Homo sapiens: one gene and its partners. The protein of the gene in region 1 interacts with the protein of each later gene in a biochemical or structural test. Each region holds a gene or a part of one and is shown in the gene's direction. Other genes may lie near its edges.

Evidence for each region.
Region 2: the proteins of APPL1 (region 1) and RAB21 form a complex in vitro, tested with the Homo sapiens proteins (one study listed by BioGRID and IntAct).
Region 3: the proteins of APPL1 (region 1) and ADIPOR1 form a complex in vitro, tested with the Homo sapiens proteins (one study listed by BioGRID).

What each region holds. Positions count from the first base shown.
Region 1 is NC_000003.12:57,258,713-57,265,824, forward strand, and holds part of APPL1 (DCC-interacting protein 13-alpha), read left to right. Parts: intron 1-315; coding exon 316-368; intron 369-1,132; coding exon 1,133-1,307; intron 1,308-1,404; coding exon 1,405-1,441; intron 1,442-1,915; coding exon 1,916-2,062; intron 2,063-7,112. UniProt on the Homo sapiens protein: Multifunctional adapter protein that binds to various membrane receptors, nuclear factors and signaling proteins to regulate many processes, such as cell proliferation, immune response, endosomal trafficking and cell metabolism.
Region 2 is NC_000012.12:71,764,806-71,771,917, forward strand, and holds part of RAB21 (ras-related protein Rab-21), read left to right. Parts: intron 1-4,994; coding exon 4,995-5,054; intron 5,055-5,786; coding exon 5,787-5,894; coding exon of another isoform or gene 5,895-5,897; intron 5,898-7,112. UniProt on the Homo sapiens protein: The small GTPases Rab are key regulators of intracellular membrane trafficking, from the formation of transport vesicles to their fusion with membranes.
Region 3 is NC_000001.11:202,941,246-202,948,357, reverse strand, and holds part of ADIPOR1 (adiponectin receptor protein 1), read left to right. Parts: coding exon 1-54; intron 55-1,747; coding exon 1,748-1,919; intron 1,920-3,162; exon of another isoform or gene 3,163-3,188; coding exon 3,189-3,375; intron 3,376-4,412; coding exon 4,413-4,600; intron 4,601-6,139; coding exon 6,140-6,333; intron 6,334-6,656; coding exon 6,657-6,785; 3' UTR 6,786-7,112. UniProt on the Homo sapiens protein: Receptor for ADIPOQ, an essential hormone secreted by adipocytes that regulates glucose and lipid metabolism. Required for normal glucose and fat homeostasis and for maintaining a normal body weight.

The sequences.
Region 1 (7,112 bases):
ATAAGTGTTCCTCTGTGCTAGCTTATTTAAATTCAAGAACTTTTGCAACATGGTTTATTATGTTGATTTTTTGTTGTGTATGTCTAAACTTCCAATTCATCTGTGTCTTCTAAAGTGCACCAACATTGATCAGTTAGTGTGTGAGGGCAGAGGCCTTCATCATAGTAATTTAGTGATCAATAGTGTTTCTTAATAGGATGGGGCATTTTAGAGCTTTTTTTTTTTAAATGTTAACTGTGGTTTTAATAATTAGATTTCTTCTATGTGGCTCATGGTAACTGACCATGTGTTCATATTTTCTTCTAAACTTTTTAGGCGTACAAATCCATTTGGAGAATCTGGAGGAAGTACAAAATCTGAAACTGAAGGTAAGACAGATGTGCAGCATTCATATATTTTAGAACTGCTTCTCAGCAAACTGTGAATAATTTATTGTTTATATTTGCTCTGCTACTAAGCTCAGTTTTAATGCTATCTTTACTTCAGAATTTCCTCTACTTACTTATAGTACACTTGAAGCAACAGAACTTAATCTGACTTAAGATGTTGTGATTCATACAAAACGATAGACTCTCATACTTTTGACTTTATAGTCAAATTCAGTGCCTAAGATACCTTTCAAGCTTTTCCTAACAGCTGATGTTTCTCTTCTGGTACTGGAGCATAAATTTTGTTTTTCCGCCACTAACTATTTATTTGAATTCTAAACTTACAGAAATGCTGTAAGAACCACCAGTTGTTGTGTGTTTGTGTGTGTGTGTGTGTGTTGAGACAGGGCTCCCTATGTTGCCTAGGCTGGTCTCGAACTCCTGGGCTCAAGGGATCCTCCTGCCTTAGCCTCCCAAAGTGCTAGGATTACAGGTGTGAACCACCACGCCTGGCCTCAGAACTGCCAGTTGTTGAAGCATTACTTTTAGCTATTTGAATTTGAAACCCTAATTTTCCTATAACTTGGAATACTGTAGTTAGGAGTTATTTTGAAATGTCTCCCTTAGGCTGTTGAATTTTTCACTAGAAAACCTAAAAGGAGGCAGTGTATTTTATTCTTTTGGAAAAGAAATATGGCGAAAAAAATAAAATGTAAATTTATACAGTAAAAAAAAAATATGTAATACACCTTGTTCTATTATAGATTCTATTCTTCATCAGTTATTTATTGTCCGATTCCTTGGTTCAATGGAGGTGAAATCAGATGACCATCCAGATGTTGTTTATGAAACTATGCGCCAAATCTTAGCTGCCCGGGCCATCCATAACATCTTTCGTATGACAGAATCGCATTTATTAGTCACTTGTGACTGTTTAAAGTAAGTAAAACCCTCCCTTAAAAAACTGTAGAAAAAACATTTACATGATTTCAGCCTAATTAAAATTTGTTTTCCAATTTTTAAATTATTATTTTAGGTTAATTGATCCACAGACACAAGTTACAAGGCTCACGGTGAGTTCCACATGATTTAAGCTTTGTTTTAGGTCCCTTTGTATATATACACATCTTACAACTTGATAATAATCCTGATCCTGTATATTCAAGTGTGATAGTATCAGCTATGATTGGTCTTTGGCTGTTGTAGTTAAGTCTATGGCCATCTCCAAAAAGTTGTCATTGAACATTTTATGTAACTTAAAAGAATTAACACAATTCTTTTTGTAATTTTTTTAACACAGTTCTTTTTGACTTTGTAAAATGTGTTAATGACTAATAAAACAAATGTAATATTCAACAACCTTTTTCTGCTTGTTAATTCAAACCAAATATGACATTACTTGTTTCTGCATTACAAGTCTGTTAAAATAATTGGCTTTAATATATTAAAATATTTATATTTTTAGAACTTAGCATATGAGTTTGTCACAAGTGCTGCTGTAATGACTTGTAAGATCTCATGTTTGCTTCTGATGTTTTCTGTGGCAGTTTCCATTACCTTGTGTAGTTTTGTATGCTACACACCAGGAAAATAAGCGCCTTTTTGGATTTGTTCTTCGGACATCAAGCGGGAGAAGTGAAAGTAATCTGTCATCAGTCTGCTATATATTTGAGTCAAACAATGAGGGGGAAAAGGTACATGGCTTTTCAGAATATCTCTGTCATAACCACTTACTAATTGATTCTTACTAAGATTTAATAATAATTAAATTCTTACAAATTAAATTAGTTAGTAATTACTGATTGAATTCTTTACAATTTATACAAATTTATGAGGCACATGTGAATTTTGTTACATGTATAGAATGTACAGTAAGCAAGTCAGGGTATTTAGGGTGTCCATCATCCAAGTACAATACATTTTTGTGAAGTATAGTCACCCTACTCTGCTGTCAGATATTAAATATATTCTTTCTATCGTAATTTATGGTTGTACCCTTTAATCAGCTTTTCTTCATCCTCCCCCTTTCCTCATCACTCAGCCTTCCCAGTCTCTGTTGTCTGTCATTCCACACTCTGCCTCCACGTGATCAATTTTTTGGCTCCCACATACAAGTGAGAACATGTGATATTTGTCTTTTTGTGCCTGGCTTATTTCACGTAAGATAATGACTTCTAGTTCCATCCACGTTGTTGTGAATGACATGATTTCATTCTTTTTATGGCTGAATAGTACTCCATTGTGTATATGTACCACATTTTCTTTATTCATTTATCTGTTAATGAACATTTAGATTGACTTAATATCTTTGCTATTGTGAATAGTACTACAGTAAACATGTGAGTGCAGGTATCCTTTTGATACAGATTTCTTTAATTTTGGGTAGATACCCAGTAGTGGGATTGTTGGATCGAATGGTAGTTCTATTTTTAGTTTTTGTTGTTGTTGTTGTTTTTGAGACGGAGTTTCACTCTGTCGCCCAGGCTGGAATGCAGTGGTGCGATCTTGGCTCACTGCAACCTCTGCCTCCTGGGTTCACGCCATTCTCCTGCCTCAGCCTCCCGAGTAGCTGGGATTACAGGTGCCTGCCACCATGCCCGGCTAATTTTTTGTATTTTTAGTAGAGACGGGGTTTCACCGTGTTAGCCAGGATAGTCTTGATCTCCTGACCTCGTGATCTGCCTGCCTCAGCCTCCCAAAGTGCTGGGATTACAGGCGTGAGCCACCATACCCGGTCTATTTTTAGTTTTTTGAGAGATCTCCATACTGTTTTCCATAGTGGTTGTACTAGTTTATGTTCCCACCAACAGTGTATGAGTTCCCCTTTTTTCTGCATTTCACCAACATCTGCTATTTTTTGTCTTTTTAGTGATAGCCATTCTGACTAGGGTAAGAATGGCTCATTGTCATTTTGATTTGCATTTCTCTAATGATTAGTAATGTCGAGCATCTTTTCATATACCTGTTGGCTGTTTTTGTGTCCTTTAAGAAATGCATATTCATATCCTCTGCATACTTTTAAGTGGGATTATTTGATTTTTTCCCTGTTGAGTTCGTTGTATATTCTGGATATTAGTCCCCAGTTGGATGAACAGTTTGCAAATAATTTCTCCCATTCAACAGGTTGTCTGTTTACTCTGTTATTTCTTTGGCTATGCAGACACTTTTTAGTTTAAGTCCCATTTGTTTATTTTTATTGCCTATACTTTTGAGGTCTTAGGCATAAAATCTTTGCCGAGACCAATGTGCAGGAGAGTTTTCCCTTCATTTTCTTCTAGTGTTTTTTTTTTCTATGGAAAATAACCTTTTTTTTTTTTTTTTTTTTTTTTTGAGACAGACTCTTGCTCTGTTGCCCAGGCTGGAGTGCAGTGGCACAATCTTGGCTCACCGTAACCTCCACCTCCTGGATTAAAGTGATTTTCCTGCCTCAGCTCCCAAGTAGCTGGGACTACAGTTGTGTGCCACCATGCCCGGCTAATTTTTTTAGTAGAGACAGGATTTCACCATGTTGGCCAGGCTGGTCTTGAACTCCTGACCTCAAGTGATCCACCTGCCTTGGCCTCCCAAAGTGCTGGGATTACAGGCATGAGCTGCCACACCCAGCTGGAAAAAGAACCTTTAATAGAACAATTATTGAGAATATCGTACTAACAAAGTTTCTCAAGAGACTAATTAGAGCTAAAATGGTGAAAGTAGGATGATCTTTGTTTTTCGTTTTTTGTGGGTACAAGGGGTGTGTGTGTGTGTGTGTGTGTGTGTGTGTGTGTATGCATTTTTTTTTTTTTTTCCAGATGGAGTCTTGCTGTGTCACCTGGGCTGGAGTGCAATGGCGCGATCTTGGCTCATTGCAACCTCCGCCCCCTCGGGTTTAAGCGATTCTCCTGCCTCAGCCTCCTGAGTAGCTGGGTCTATAGGCATGCGCCACCACGCCCAGCTAATTTTGTATTTTTAGTAGAGACAGGGTTTCTCCATGTTGGTCAGGCTGGTCTCAAACTCTCGACCTCAGATGATCCGCCTGCCTCGGCCTCCCAAAGTGCTGGGATTACAGGTGTGAGCCACCTCGCCCAGCCAGGTGTATATATTTATGCAGTACATGAAATATTTTGCTACACTTATGCAATGCGTAATAACCACATCATGGAAAATGGAGTATTCCTTCCCTTAAGCATTTATCCTTTGTATTAGAAACAATCCAATTATACTCTTTTAGTTATTTTTAAATGTACAATTATTATTGACCGTAGTCCCCCGTTCTATCAAATACCAGGTTTTATTCATTCTATTTTTTTTTTTTAATCATTAACCATCCTCCCACCCCCCATCCCCACACTACCCTTCTCAGCCTCTGGTAACCACCCTTCTGTTCTCTGGCTCCATGAGTTCAATTGTTTTGATTTTTAGATCCCACAGATAAGTGAAAACATGCAATATTTGTCTTTCTGTGCCTGGCTTATTTTGCTTAACATAATGACCTCCATGTTCCATATATCTTATTGCAAATGACAGAATCTCATTCTTTTTTATGGCTGAATAGTACTCCATTGTATGTAAGTACCACATTTTCTTTATCCATTTTCTTTATCCATGTATCATCCATTCAAATGACAGAATCTCATTCTTTTTTTCTGGCTGAATAGTACTCCATTGTGTGTGTGTGTACATTTTCTTTATCCATTCATCTGTTGTTTTTTTTTTTTTTCCATTCATCTGTTGATGGACACTTAGGTGGCTTCCAAGTTTTAACTATTGTGAACCGAGCTGCAGCAAACATGGGAGTGCAGATGTCTCTTCAATATACTGATTTCCTTTTTTTAGGTATATACCCAGCAGTGGGATTGCTGGATCATATGGTAGCTCTATTTTTAGTTTTTTGAGGAACCTCCAGACTTTTCTCCATAGTGGTTATACTAATTTACATTCCCACCAACAGTGTACAAGGGTTCCCTTTTCTCCACATGCTTCCCAGCATTTGTTATTGCCTTTTTGCTATAAGCCATTTTAACTGGGGTGAGATGATACATTGTAGTTTTGATTTGCATTTCTCTGATGATCAGTGATGTTGAGGACCTTTTCATATGCCTGTTTGCCATTTGTATGTCTTCTTTTGAAAAATGTCTATTCAAATATTTTGCCCAGTTTTAAATCAGATTAAGGTTTTTCCTATAGAGTTGTTTGAGCTCTTTGTATATTCTGGTTATTAATCCCTTGTCAGATGAGTAGTTTACAAATATTTTCTCCCATTCTGTGGCTTGTTTCTTCACTTTGTTGATTGTTTCCTTTGCAGTGCAGAAACTTTTTAACTTGATGAGATCCCATTTGTCCATTTTTGCTTTAGTTGCCTGTGCTTGTGGGGTATTACTCAAGAAATTTTTGCCCAGACTGATGTCCTGGAGAGTTTCCCCAATATTTTCTTGTAGTAGTTTCATAGTTCAAGGTCTTAGATTTAAGGCTTTAATCCATTTTAATTATATTTAAAAAAATTTAAAAAAAAATAAAAAAAATAAAAAAAAATTTTTTTAAAAAATATTTTTGTATATGGTGAGAGAGAGGGGTCTAGTTTTATTCTTCTACATATGGATATCCAGTTTTCCCGGCACCATTTATTGAAGGGACTGTCTTTTCCCCAATGTATATTCTTGGTGCCTTTGTCAAAAATGAGTTCGCTGTAGTTGTGTGGATTTGTTTCTGGATTCTCTATTCTGTTGCACTGGTCTATGTGTCTTTTTTTTTTTTTTTTGCCAGTACCATGCTGTTTTGGTTACTATAGCTCTGTAGCATTGTAATTTGAAGTCAGGTAATGTGATTTCTCTAATTTTGTTATTTTTGCTCAGAATAACTTTGGCTATTCTGAATCTTTTATGATTCCATATACATTTTCAGATTGTTTTTTCTATTTCTGTGAAGAATGCCATTGGTTTTTTGATAGGGATTGCATTGAATCTATAGATTGCTTTGGGTAGTATGGACATTTTAACAATATTGATTCTTCCAATCCATGAACGTGGAATATGTTTCCATTTTTGGTGTCCTCTTCAATTTCTTTCATCAGTGTTTTATAGTTTTTTGTTTTTTTTGTTTGTTCTTTTGAGACAGAGTCTCATTCTATTGCCCAGGCTGGAGTGCAGTTGCATAATCTCGGCTCACTGCAATGTCTGCCTCCCAGGTTCAAGTAATTCTCATGCCTCAGCCTCCCAGGTACCTGGGATTACAGGTATGCGCCACCACCACCTGGCTAATTTTTGTATTTTTAGTAGAGATGAGGTTTCACCATATTGGCCAGGCTGGTCTCAAACTCCTGGCCTCAAGTGATCCACCTGTCTCGGCCTCCCAAAGTGCTGGGATTACAGGCCTGAGCCACTGCGCCCAGCCTGTAGTTTTCATTATAGAGATCTTTCACTTTGGTTAACTCCTGGGTATTTAATTTTATCTGTGGCTATTGTAAGTGAGATTACTTTATTTATTTCTTTTTCAGATTGTTCACTGTTGGCATATAGAAATGCTACTAATTGTTGTATGTTGATTTTGTATCCTGAAACTTTACTGAATTCATCAGTTCTAATAGTTTTTTGGTGGAGTCTAGGTTTTTCTAAATATAAGATCATCATATCATCTGCAAACAAGGATAGTTTGACTTCTTCCTTTACAATTTGGATGCCTTTTTTCCTCTCTTACCTGATTACTCATCTTCCATCTAAAAGGTGGAAAGGCTTTTTGTTTTTCTGCATTCAGTATGATACTAGCTGT
Region 2 (7,112 bases), on another chromosome or scaffold:
AGTAGTATTCTATGGCGTATATATACCGCATATTCTTTATTCACTTGTTGGTTGATGGACACTCAGGTTGGCTCCATATCTTTGCAGTTGTGAATTGTGCTGCAGTAAACATGTGTGCATGTGTCTTTTTCATATGACAACTTCTTTTCCTTTGGGTAAATACTCAGTAGTGGGATTGCTGGATCAAATGATAGATCTATAATGCTTTTAGTTCTGTAAGTAATCTCCATACTGTTTTCTTTAGTGGTTGTTCTAGTTTACGTTCCCACCAGCAGTGTAAAAGTGTTCCCGTTTCATCACATCCACACCAACATCTATTGTTATTTTGACTAATTATGGTCATTCTTGTAGGAGTAAGGGGTATGTCATTGTGATTTTAATTTGCATTTCCCTGATAATTAGTCATGTTGAGCATTTCTTCATACGTTTGTTGGCTGTTTGTATATCTTCTTTTGAGAATTGTCTTTTCATGTCCTTTGCCCACTTTTTGATGGGGTTGTTTTTTTCTTGCTGATATGTTTGAGTTCCTTGTAGATTCTGGATATTAGTCTTTTGTTGGATGCTTAGTTTACGAACATTTTCTTCCACTCTGGGTTGTCTGTTTACTCTGCTGAGTATTTATTTTGCTGTGCAGAAGCGTTTCAGTTTAATTAGGTACCATTTATTCATTTTTGTTTTTGTTGCATTTGCTTTTGGGGTGTTAGTCATGAATTCTTTCTCTAAGCCAATGTCTAGAAGAGTTTTTCCAATGTTATCCCCTAGAATTTTTATGGTTTCAGTTCTTAGATTTAAGTCTTTGATCCATCTTGAGTTGATTTTTGTATAAGGTGAGAGATGAGGATCCAATTTCATTCTTCTACATGTGGCTTGCCAGTTTTCCTAGCACCTTTTGTTAAATAGGCTATCTTTTCCCAAATTTCTGTTTTTATATGCTTTGTCGAAGATCAGGTAAGTGTAAGTATTTGGCTTTATTTCTGCGTTCTCTATTGTTCCATTGGTCTACGTGCCTATTTTTATACCTGTTTGTTGCTATCTTGATGTTTCAGCTTTCTTCTTAAATATATTCATAATTTTATTTTTTAAAAAAGTTTTCTAAAGTTTTTTAAAAAGAGTTCTCCCTTGAAGAAAATGTCTATAAAATATTAAAAACTTAGGATTTATATCAAATGAGATGATTTACGAAACAGAATCTTTCCATAGAGCAGGGCTTAAGTTTTTCATTATGAAGGAAAAAAATATTTACTAGGGATCCTTTGATAATATGCTTTACTAGTGCATCATATATATGAGTTAAAATAATTTGATTAAGAAGGAAACTTAGGAGCATATCTCCTACTAAATTGAGTTATACCTGCATTGATTTACCTGGGCATATTGTAGATGTGCTTATCTATAATAACAGTATTTGATTGTCAATTATGGGCAGGGTACTATGACTTCCACCCACTTCTTCCACAAGAGTGGAAGTGTTAGAGAGCTCAGATCTCAGTCTGAGAAGTATCGTAGCATAGTAGTTATAATTAATATCTGGAGCCAAACTGCCTGGGATTTCAAGTGGCACTGTGTCACTTACTGTGTGACCTTGGGCAAGATATTTACCCTCCTTATGCCTCATTTTCCACATCTGTAATACATGGGTAACAATTATCTCTGACTCACAGGGTGTTATTGGCACCTGAGAATTAAGTGAATTAATATTTGAGAAGCTCTTAGAACACTGCCCATTTCATTGTAAGTGCTGTAGAAACGTTAAATAAAAATATGTAGTCTAGTTAACAGAATACTTATACCCATGAAAAGATAATTTATAGTATAAGACAGTATAAGCTGCAGTAAATGCAGAGTTGATTCCCTAAAATTCTTCAGGCTAGAAAAATTTGTGTGCATTGCGTGCATGAGTATAAGAGAACATGAAATTTCAAGGAAAAAGAGCCATATTTGGATAGGTGGAATTCAGATAGAGAACAGAGAATAGGCTCAAATTAGAGTGGAATTTTATGGACAGAAGAATTGAAGAGGATGCAAAAAAGCCATATAAGTTGGAGAATAAGTAAAGAAATATTGGAAGCTGTCCTAAGAAGATAGATGTGGACACGTTGTGGAAGTCTTTGGATATAAAGATAAGGCTTTGAGACTTTTAATTGTAAATGTGGGCTCCCCAACTTTTATAAAGAAGCAGCTTATGAATGATTTTGTGAAAAGTGCATAGCACAGTACTTGGCACAAAATAAACATTTAATAAATGTTAGCTAGTATTAGCAGCAGTAGTAGAAATGACTGTGTAGTGTTTTTACTGCATGGATGGCTATTTTTGTGAATTTTTAACTACTTACCTATTAATGAACACAGATAATTTCATTGTTTTTGTTTTTCTATATAATCAGTGTTGTCATGTGTACCCTTTCCGTACAAGTGTTTTTGTGTATCCATAGTTCCTTAATGGAGACTTAATACCGTCCTTTAAATTTGCCGTGGGAGAGTGGTGGGAAATTTCAGAGGGGATGGTAGAAAAGAAATGAGGCAGCTTTACCAACTCTGATGCACTCCCTTCTTCTGAGAAATCTCCACAACACTCATGACCAAAAGGTTATGATATTAGCTGTCAGCAGGGATGTTCAAGCATACTTATTAAAAATGATAACCTGTTAGGGAACCCTTCGATGAGTTGTAAGTTGTTGTTGTGGGGTTTTTTTTGTTTGTTTTGTTTTTGTTTTTGTTTTAACCAGGGAAGCTTTGGGAAGATAATATGGCATGCAGAGCGGGGTGTAAGGTGAACCAGAGGTATTTATGTTACGATATAATAAGAGACTGGTGGTCATAGACCCCAGAGGAAATGTGAAGACAAGGCTTGGTAGATTTTGGAGGCATATAGACTGACAAGGGCTTAAGAAGATATTTCCAAGTTTCTAAACTTCAATGAGAAGGCGAATGTGATCAAAATACTAAAGTCAGAATGAAAATCCAATTTTGGGGAGAAGATCGGTTCAGTCTTTCTTACATGTGTTTGAAAAAGAGGCACTTAAATTGACCTATCCATTAAATATTCGGATAGGATTCAGATTTTGTTTTTTTTCCATGTGGCATTGATATTGAAACCATGAAAATGATTGAGTTCAAATAAATTACACAGCTAGTATGTGGCAAAGCTGAGATTCAAATCCACAGGTTCTGCTCCAAAGTTCATATTCTTAGCTCCTATGCTAGCATGAATGGGAGAAGACATTTATTGTCATAACATGTATTTGGTCTTCTCATTTTTCAGGTTACTTTGCTGTTTTGGCATTTAATTTTTCTTCTTTTCTGTATAATTTTTATTTTATTTACAAAATATCTTGAGGATAGCTTGGGCCTTGAAGGCAGACATACATGGGTTTGAACCCAGCTCTGCCATTTATATTTATCTGTAGACTCCTTGGTTAATCACTACATCCAGTGGCCTTTTCTTAGTTCTAATTTTCTGTGGTGTGCCCATAGCAAAAAGACCTTCCTGAAATTGAGGTAAAAGAAATCTCAATTGTTTCTTTCCTTCAGTAATTCACCATCCTGACCTTTTATCTGTTTCACCTTCTTTGCACTTTCTTCTATATAAATAACACCTAAATGTGACTATCTCTATACAGGTCTGAACTCAGCTCTCTATTCCTTTTTTTTAAACACGTCAGCTGACTCTGGATTCTGGATATATTTTGTCTTCAGTAACTCTTGATACTCTTCTTTCTTTCCTATCTTCATGGTCTTAGTTCAGATCTCCTTTTTTATATTTTTCTCCAATTTTGTAAGTGTTCTTTCTACCTATCTTTTCTAGTCCAACCTCCCTTCCTATCCCAGGGTCATTCTCTTAAAATATAGATCTGTTTCCCCATTGCTTGAAACCATTCAGTGATTCTCCCTTGTCAGTAGTCCTGTTTCTTCAAACAGTTGTTCTTTAGGATGAATTTGGTATTTTTCCAGGAAAAAAAGGTTCAGTGCTATACAGAAGAAAATCAGGGAAAAAAAGTTCAAATGAGTTTGGGAAATGCTTGTATAAATACAGTCAGCTAGCCTTCCTTTTGGCAGCATCCTAATGTGTTAATGTGCATTGTTGGTGTATAAAAATCAATACATAGTATTTCCAAAGTATACTTGACGTGTGTGTGTGTGTGTCTAAATACATGTCTGGTGTCTTAGAACAGGTTTTGTTGAGACCCACAAGGTAAAGTCCATCTGTGTAGTTTCATCTCTGGTATTGACCATACCCACTTGGAGTTCCCTGTGGGATGGAGTCATGTGTTTGAGGCTTCAGTGGCTTCACTCATCTATCAGGAACAGTCCCTACTGCTCCTAAAGGGGAGATCATTACCTTCTCTCTGAAGCCTTCTTTGACTCATTCAGACAACTGTTATACTTCCTTTCTCAGTACTATCTTTACAGTGTATTTGGCAAGACCCTCCATTTTAGCAATTATCACATGGAATCGTAATTCTCTTTATTTTTATTTCTCTAGTAGAGTATAAAGGGTAGAACCGTGTCCCTTCATTTCTCTGACATTAATACTTAGGATAATTATTGAATATATGTTAAACAATTGAGTTATGAAGTAACTGTGGAATCATTTTGAATAATATTGATATTTGTACATTAAGTAAACCACCAGTAAACATTTATTTTATCTTAGAAATCTCTTAGACTCTTTCTTTCTGTGATAAGGTAGCATCAAATTAAATGCTCTAGGGAAAATTTTGTTCCACATAGATAAGGAAAAATATTAAGAAAAAAATACTTATTTTCTGTGTGTTTTGTATAACCTATTTTCAGAAAACAAGATTTTTTTTTAGATAAAAATGTAAATAATGTCTTATCTTTAATGAAACAATTTCGATCATTAATTTAAAACTCGGTGATTACTTTTTCTCCCAGATAACTTTTACATTGAGATGATTCATTCATCTATAGTTGTTAGGATAAAGAACCTTATTTTATAAGAAACATTGTTTAATGTTTATTTCTCTTTTTAGGCATCATTCTTAACAAAGAAGTTAAATATTGGTGGGAAAAGAGTAAACCTTGCCATATGGGTAAGTGAACTTTTTCAACTATTATGCGTGGAGGCTTCTTCCTTTTTTCTTTTTTTTTAAAGTTAATTGGAGCTTAGCCAACACTTTTTTTTTTTTTTAATTAAAAAGAATCTTAAAATCTGGTTGAGAATTATATCTGGAATATAATTGTATATTTGAATATTGCTGTCATAACTTTTCAGTTGGAGAAGGGTCAACTCAGAGGGGTTCCACTTCAGAGAGAGGACAGGGTGGGTGGACAGCTTGCCTGGCCTTTTTTTCCCCACCCTGTGTCTCCATATTCCAGCCTTCTAAGAGAATGGCTGGTGGGTGAGGATAATGCAGCAGATACTTCTTGACTGGTGATCTTGATGCACGTGCCATTTCCCTGTCTCTCCCAGTGTGGGAACTTAAACTTAGGGCAGAGCCTATTCCTGGCTTATAATACTGTGTTGGTTGTTTTGACCCTCTGGCAACTGAAACTGGTATTTTAATGGGGGTGGGGAAGTGCTGAGGAGGAGGAAGGTTGGGAGGGAAAAAGTAACTTTTGTATATCACTAAAACATTACATATTGGTCATAACTTAAAAATTTTGTGTGTGGCCTGTTTTGCTGTTTTGTTTCTGTTAATAGGGTTTTGTGGTTGTCTTTGACTTTATGCCATATTTTCCAATTAATCAAAAAGTTCACCATAGTTGCAATCGCAGATTTGTATTTTTCTTCTGATCTAATAAGCATTTGTTGCTTTCTTTAGGATACGGCAGGTCAAGAGAGATTCCATGCATTGGGTCCAATTTACTACAGAGATTCAAATGGAGCGATTTTAGTTTATGACATAACAGATGAAGATTCTTTTCAGAAGGTATTCTATTCATGGGTAGATGTCTTAGAAGAACAATAGTAATTTTTCAAGTTTCCATTAATATACCTTTATTCACTAATGTGATTAGTTTTCTTTTTAAAAATAAAGTATATAATTTGTGCATAACTGGTGACCACTTACATTTTATTTTTCTTTTCACCTACAACATGGTGGTGTACTCATATGTTTAATGAAATATTTGATTCATATGAATTAATTTACGTTAGAATAATTAATGCCTTATTACATGGCTTTCTCAAATATTAGGGAAGGGAAATATTTGAAATTGAGCTTCAGAAAAATATGGGGGCTTTTGTTTTTCCCTCTTAAGGAAAAATCACACATATTTCCTTAATTCCATACGCATTGGGCTCTTAAACTTGGTGTGGCTGGACGGGTTCCTTTATTGTGAAGAGGAAAAAGGAGGAACAACATCACATTTAAGCTTTCTCCTTGCCAAATATAATAAAAGTTTTAAAAGGACAGTCTTAAAGTTATCTCATTAGTTTACTTCCCTTCAAAAACACACCACATACGTATGACTCTTAAAGTTGTTTGGGACCAAAAATGAGTTACCATTTAATTACCTCTGAATTTTCATCACAATCAGATGGGTTACTTATTTGACCTTTTCTCCTAAAGCTCTTCTTGGAATATGTCAACAATGTGTAACTACAGGGAATAATGCCAAGGAAGAAGCTTTTCTTGCCTTGAGTTACAGGCTTGTTCTTGGTAAAATTACTTACCTTGTTTGTTTTGTTTTTTCTCTTTATTTTTTTTCCCAGTTAAATCTGATAGAGCAGATATACAAGTTAGCCCTTGGGTTATTAATGATAAATGGAAAAACTTAATCCAAAAGTAGAAAATGAAACGATAGGTACCTTGTAGATTTAATGATTTTTAAAAGTTATTTTGGTGCTGCTGTTTGTTATCTCCCTCTCGCGTTTTGCATGAAAAGACATAGTTTAAGTATTTTATTAAGAGAAGATTGAGGCCAGGCACAGTGGCTCACGCCTGTAATCCCAGCACTTTGGGAGGTCGAGGACAGCGGGTCACTTGAGGTCGGGAGTTAGAGACCAGCCCAGCCAACATGGTGAACTCCCATCTCTACTAAAAATACAAAAAAATTAGCTGGGTTTGGTGGCACATGCCTATAATCTTAGCTACTTGGGAAGCTGAGGCAGGAGACTTGCTTAAACTGGGGAGGCAGAGGTTGCA
Region 3 (7,112 bases), on another chromosome or scaffold:
CTTCCCCTGCAAGCCCACCACGCCATGGAGAAGATGGAAGAGTTTGTGTACAAGGTATGGCCTATGAGCTTCTGTCCTGGAAGGGGAAGGGCAGCAGGCCTGTCTGGGATGTCCCCAGCCAGCAAGCTTGCACTGGGTCGAAGAGCTTTTATTCCTGGGAAGGAGTGGATTTGTTTTTTGGTTAAGATGAGGTAAATCAATGTGAAGACTGGCTAAATTTTTACTGCCTACTCTGTGAGGCATTGTTCAAAATATATTCTTAAAACGGATTCTTTTCTATGCAAGGGGCGCCTTTGGAAGTCATCAAAATATTTCAATATGACAGTAATATGAATGCCTTTGTTAACACATTAAATATACATGAATGATGAGCACTAATGTATTTTATTAAAATTTGTAATTTCTAAGTAATGATGAATAGAAACAGTATTTTGAGATACCTGCAGAACTAATGTGTGAGAGTATCTGATTTCTATTGGTGACAAAGCCACAAGTTCTACTAATACTGTGGTTTGTTGCTTATGCTTATAATTGAGGAAAATGCTCAATTTACTTAGAGGTAAATGGAAATACAATTTTTTCCATCTATTCCCTGGATCCTGTCCATAGTGCATGGATCCTAGATTAAGAACCCCTACTCTAAAAAGATGTGGTAAGAACTTAGAATCTAATTGGGGGAGGGATGAGACATGAGATAGAATCTCCTGGAGAGGGGCAAAGGAGGGATCTGTACGTTTTTTAAAACAACGTTTATAATTTTTTTGTTTTTATTCAGTATATCAATTTTGAAATTTCAAGTAGCCTAAAGGAGGTTGTACCATATATATATATATATTTTTTTGAGACAGAGTTTTGCTCTTGTCTCCCAGCTGCAGTGGCACGATCTCAGCTCACTGCAACCTCTGCCTGCCAGGTTCAAGCACTTCTCCTGCCTCAGCCTCCCGAGTAGCTGGGATTACAGGCATGTGCCACCACGCCTGGCTTATTTTTGTATTTTTAGTAGAGACGGGGTTTCTCCATGTTGGTCAGGCTAGTCTCGAACTCCCAACCTCAGGTGATCCGCCCGCCTCAGCCTCCCAAAGTGCTGGGATTACAGGCGTGAACCACTGCGCCCAGCCTGGTTGGACCATATTTTCTTAAAAGGTTGAGAAACACTTACCTAAAACTTCTCCAGATAAACTAACATGAAACAAAGACAAAGAGATTTTTTGTTTGTTTGTTTTTGTTTTTTTGTTTTTTTTGAATACAGAGTCTTGCTCGGTCGCCCAGGCTGGAGTGCAGTGGTGCAATCTCGGCTCACTGCAACCCCCGCCCGCCAGGTTCAAACCATTCTCCTGCCTCAGCCTCCTGAGTAGCTGGGATTACAGGTGCCCGCCACCATGCCCGGCCAATTTTTTGTGTTTTTAGTAGAGACAGGGTTTCACCATGTTAGTCAGGCAGGTCTTGAACTCCTGACCTCAGGTGATCCACCTGCCTCAGCCTCCCAAAGTGCTAAGATTACAGGCATGAGCCGCTACACTCAGCCAGGATTTTTTTTTTTTTTTTAATGGTCAAAATATGAGTCAGGACTCTGCTAGCCCCATTCATGCTATGTCTTGGATATCCCCCAGTCCAGGCTGGTTCTCCACTATTACCTAGGACCATTCAGAGCCTGACTGACATCTTCTTAGACTAGTTCTCCATCACTGCTTGTCCTTGGGGAAGGTACTATCTAGTGCCCTACCCAGAGAAAGTGTATATGTTCTAGGTCTGGGAGGGACGTTGGAGGGTCATCCCATATGATGTGCTCCCTGACTGGCTAAAGGACAACGACTATCTGCTACATGGTCATAGACCTCCCATGCCCTCCTTTCGGGCTTGCTTCAAGAGCATCTTCCGCATTCATACAGAAACTGGCAACATCTGGACCCATCTGCTTGGTGAGTGATTTGGATGGGGAAAGGTGGAATTTGTTGTCTCCCTAACTGCGAAGGGATTATAGAGCCCAACAAAGTTGTTCAGATCGATTGGCAGCTGGGATTCTACCTTTAAACTACTAATGACTTTAAGCTAATAACCTTGGTTGACCCTTGATCACTGATCTTTAAGACTGAGAGTAAAAGGCCTAGAAACCAAAGAAATTGGGACTAGATATTTTTTTGTGATCCCTGGCAGAACTGTTCTAGGTGGAGACAATTCCTTGTACTTCGTAATTTCCAACTGTAAAAGTAAAATGCCAACATTTCAAAAAATGGTCTTTTTTGTCTGGGTTTCTGTGACCAGTGCCACTTTCTTTGAAACATTGGACTGCAATTACACAGCTAAACCTCATAGCTTTCTGATTTTTTTTTTATTTCAATAGCTCTTGGGTTACAAAGGGGTGGGGGGGGGTTTGGTTACATGGATGAATTATATACTGGTGAATTCTGAGATTTTAATGCACCCATCACCTTAGTAGTGTACATTGTACTCAATATGTAGTTTTTCTGTCTCACACCCCTATCTCCCCCTCCCGCTTCTAAGTCTCCATAGTCCATTATATCATTCTATATGCCTTTGCGTACTCATAGCTTAGCTCCCACTTATAAGTGAGAACATATACAGTATTTGATTTTTCATTCCTAAGTTACTTCACTTAGAATAGTGGCCTTCAGCTTCATCCAGGTTGCTGCAAAAGACATTATTGCATTCCTTTTTATGGCTGAGTAGTATTCCATGGTGTACATACACCACATTTCCTTTATTCACTCATTGGTCAATGGACACTTAGGTTGGTTCCATATCTTTAGAGTTGTGAATTGTGCTACAATAAACATACATGTGCATGTGTCTTTTTCATATGACTGCTTTTCCTTTGGGTAGACACCTGGTAGTGGGATTGGTGGATCAAATAGTAGCTCTACTTTTAGTTCTTTAAGGAATCTCTATACCCTTTTCCATAGAGGTTATACTAGTTTATAATTTACATTCCCACAAGGAGTGTATAAGCATTCCCCTTTTACCATATCCATGCCAACATCTGTTGTTTTTTGACTTTTTAATAATGGCCTTTCTTGCAGAAGTAAGGTGGTATTTCATTGTGCTTTTAATTTGTATTTCCCTGATGATTAGTGATGTTGCCTGTAGCTCTCTGATTCAAAAACATCAACCATCAAAGTGTACACATTCCCTTTTTTCTTACAGGTTTTTTTTATTTTACCCTCCTGCAGGTTTCGTGCTGTTTCTCTTTTTGGGAATCTTGACCATGCTCAGACCAAATATGTACTTCATGGCCCCTCTACAGGAGAAGGTGGTTTTTGGGATGTTCTTTTTGGGTGCAGTGCTCTGCCTCAGCTTCTCCTGGCTCTTTCACACCGTCTATTGTCATTCAGAGAAAGTCTCTCGGACTTTTTCCAAGTGAGTTAAAAGAACACCATAGGAAAATACTGTGCACTGTTGTCACATCTTGAGATCCCAGTGCTTACTGGGTGATAGGAGCTCATATCACTCCTAAAGGTTTCTTGATATGCCAGAGGAAAGGCTCTCTGTTCTGTGGCGATAGTGGGGTGATGAAGCTTTTCTCTTAAACACTTCATGAACAGACTTACTGCATCCTCTTCAACAGATGGAGAGACCAATTGTGGAATATATTTTCTACCTGAAAAGCACTATCTTTTGTGAGGCTTAGAGTGCCAGTGCACTGGCTGCTTTCCAAGACCTTGTACAAGCGTAACTTACTATTAGCCCAAGCCAAAGTAGGGTGTGGTAAATAGTCTATGCTTCATTCTGCTGGTGCTCCTACCCAGCAGTCAAGTAAAGCTTATCTTTGCTGCCCATGCATTGCTGGAAGCTCCAGATGTCCATCATCGTGTGCTTTCTCTCTTGCCCAGCCGTGAGCCTGAGGTTCTATTTGTTTGCTTGTTTTTGTTGTTATTGTTGGTTTTGGTGGCGACAGTGGTGTATTATTTTGTTTTTTCTAACAACACCAGTAAGAAGGTACATTTTCCTCATTTAAAAAGTCAACTAAGATAGAAAAAGCTAGAGTATCCCTTAATACTACTCCCAATTTAAGAATTTTGTTTTTAGAACTCATTCTATCAGAATAGGAGAATTTTCAAAGCCTTTCCTGAGTGTGATGCTGGGAACCAGCTGGATTGTGATGGAATTTCTAAATTCAAGTGTCTACTATGGGAGATACGGCTGTTCACTAGTAAGGGAAAGGGATAGAGTTCTTTGAATGGGGATTCTTAGAGATTTTTCCATCGTAAAATAGAAGTGACCTTGTGGAATTTTAATCCAGAATACAGGATAGATTGTATGGGAGTCTACAATACAGGATAGATTGAGGGAATGGTTAAATCTGGGAGCAGGTGGAGAACAGAAAGAGCTAGTTAAATGAGCCATACAAATTCATTTCCCCCACTGATTTGTTTCATTTTTGTGGTTCTTTTTAGACTGGACTATTCAGGGATTGCTCTTCTAATTATGGGGAGCTTTGTCCCCTGGCTCTATTATTCCTTCTACTGCTCCCCACAGCCACGGCTCATCTACCTCTCCATCGTCTGTGTCCTGGGCATTTCTGCCATCATTGTGGCGCAGTGGGACCGGTTTGCCACTCCTAAGCACCGGCAGACAAGAGCAGGTAGGTCGGAAGATGTACGTACACCTCAGAGGTATTTAGACCTTAGGCCTGATAGGCTCAAACCTATTTGAGCCTTAAGGTTTGCAGCTTGAGAACCCCACCCAAACCCTGATTTGTGTTTCAGAACTTTCAAAACAGCATCAATTTCAAAGCTCAGTTCTCAACCCCCAGTGTCATACTATTTCAGTAGAATGCCAATAGGACAGATCATTACCCAGCTGGTCAATTAACTGCAAGCACAGATGTAGCTACTCTTATACTTGGTTTGTGACAGTTTAAAAATGTAGCAAGCACAGTAATTTTAGTGACCCGAGTCCCAAGCTCAGACCAAGGGATTAAAATTAAAACACTCAGAGGCATTTTACTAAGGGAATGGAATACCTGGTTTGGTGAATGAAAATACCTTGAGCATAAACAGGTAACAAAGTAATAGCTACAAGCATAAACATCTTTGTGTTGTCTCATCTCATCTGGACTCTTATTTTAAGCTTTTATTACTTGCAGCAACACCACCAATTACCACTAGTCTTTAGTCCCTTTACAATTAATATCTGCTATGTTTTAACCTTCAGTTAAAATAATTAAATATTGTCCGGGAGCAGTGGCTCACGCCTGTAATCCCAGCACTTTGGGGGGCCGAGGCAGGCGGATCACTTGAAGTCAGGAGTTTGAGACCAGCCTGGCCGACATGGTAAAACCCTGTTTTTATTTAAAATATAAAAATTAGTCGGCGTTGTGGCAGGTGCCTGTAATTCCAGCTACTTGAGAGGCTGAGGCGGGAGAATCACTTGAACCTGGTCGGGGGCAGAGGTTGTAGTGAGCCAAGATCACGCCACTGCACTCCAGCCTGGGCAACAAAGCAAGACTCTATCTCAAAAAAAAAAAAGAAAGAAAGAAAGAAAAGAAAAAAATAATAATAATTAAATATTTATCAAGCACCAGCCACGTGCCATGCACTGTGCTTAAACAAAGGTATTTACAAAGATGGAGAGGTGGTCCCTGCCCTTCAGTTATGTGTAGTGTAATGATGAGACACATACCCATTCTTCCCTTGCTCTTGCCTTACTTGTGTGTCCCAGCAGCTACAGGATAACTGCTAATCTGGGTATATCTGTCTACTCAGGAGGTCAGAGTTCTGGTTATGTAAGACTTTTATGATCTTAACAGGAAGCCTATCCTATGCTTCTCTGACTTGGGAGGCAACTGAAGCCTTGACATCTAAGTTCTGTACCCAAGTTAGCCATCAGAGAGTCTTGACATACCATTTTTACCTAAATTCCTTAACAGATAATGAAGAATATGAGATCTTTGTTCTTGGTGCTTAAAAGGTAGTAAGCACTTACACAGCTTCTTCCCATTCAGGACATAGAAGAAATATCTGTTGAGTGTTATCCATCTTGTAGCTAAGTTTCCTAAACATGTACTATTCATCCAAAAATAGCTAATTATCATAAACATTGAAATTCCAGAGTAAGACAGCAGTGCCTTCCATGCGGTGGCTGTTTCCTTGTTTGACAGTCTTATGTCTGTTCTGTTCAGGCGTGTTCCTGGGACTTGGCTTGAGTGGCGTCGTGCCCACCATGCACTTTACTATCGCTGAGGGCTTTGTCAAGGCCACCACAGTGGGCCAGATGGGCTGGTTCTTCCTCATGGCTGTGATGTACATCACTGGAGCTGGCCTTTATGCTGCTCGAATTCCTGAGCGCTTCTTTCCTGGAAAATTTGACATATGGGTAAGAAATGAATCTTCCAGCAGGTCCTGTGATGGTGAGTGAACAGCCCAAAGTTAAAGGGCTGAGGAAAAGGTGGTATGAGACTGGGATCATATAGTGTTTGGAGGTACATATATGTGCATTGAAGGTAAATCATCAATATTAACATTTTGGTGTATCTCTGACAAGGACTGTGTTTTTAAAACTTTCTAAATATACCACTTTAATGTTATTAACAAATTTGTTTAATTAAGGATAAACTAGAAGAAGCAAATGCTTTCTCCTACTTGTTTCTTATTCCTCCTTGCATTATCCTAAAGGCTCTTTTCTTTTTATTCCTACAGTTCCAGTCTCATCAGATTTTCCATGTCCTGGTGGTGGCAGCAGCCTTTGTCCACTTCTATGGAGTCTCCAACCTTCAGGAATTCCGTTACGGCCTAGAAGGCGGCTGTACTGATGACACCCTTCTCTGAGCCTTCCCACCTGCGGGGTGGAGGAGGAACTTCCCAAGTGCTTTTAAAAATAACTTCTTTGCTGAAGTGAGAGGAAGAGTCTGAGTTGTCTGTTTCTAGAAGAAACCTCTTAGAGAATTCAGTACCAACCAAGCTTCAGCCCACTTTCACACCCACTGGGCAATAAACTTTCCATTTCCATTCTCCTAGCTGGGGATGGGGCATGGTCAAACTTAGCCATCCCCTCCTCAGCAAGGCATCTACCGGCCCCTCACAGAGACAGTACTTTGAAACTCATGTTGAGATTTTACCCTCTCCTCCAACCATTTTGGGAAAATTATGGACTGG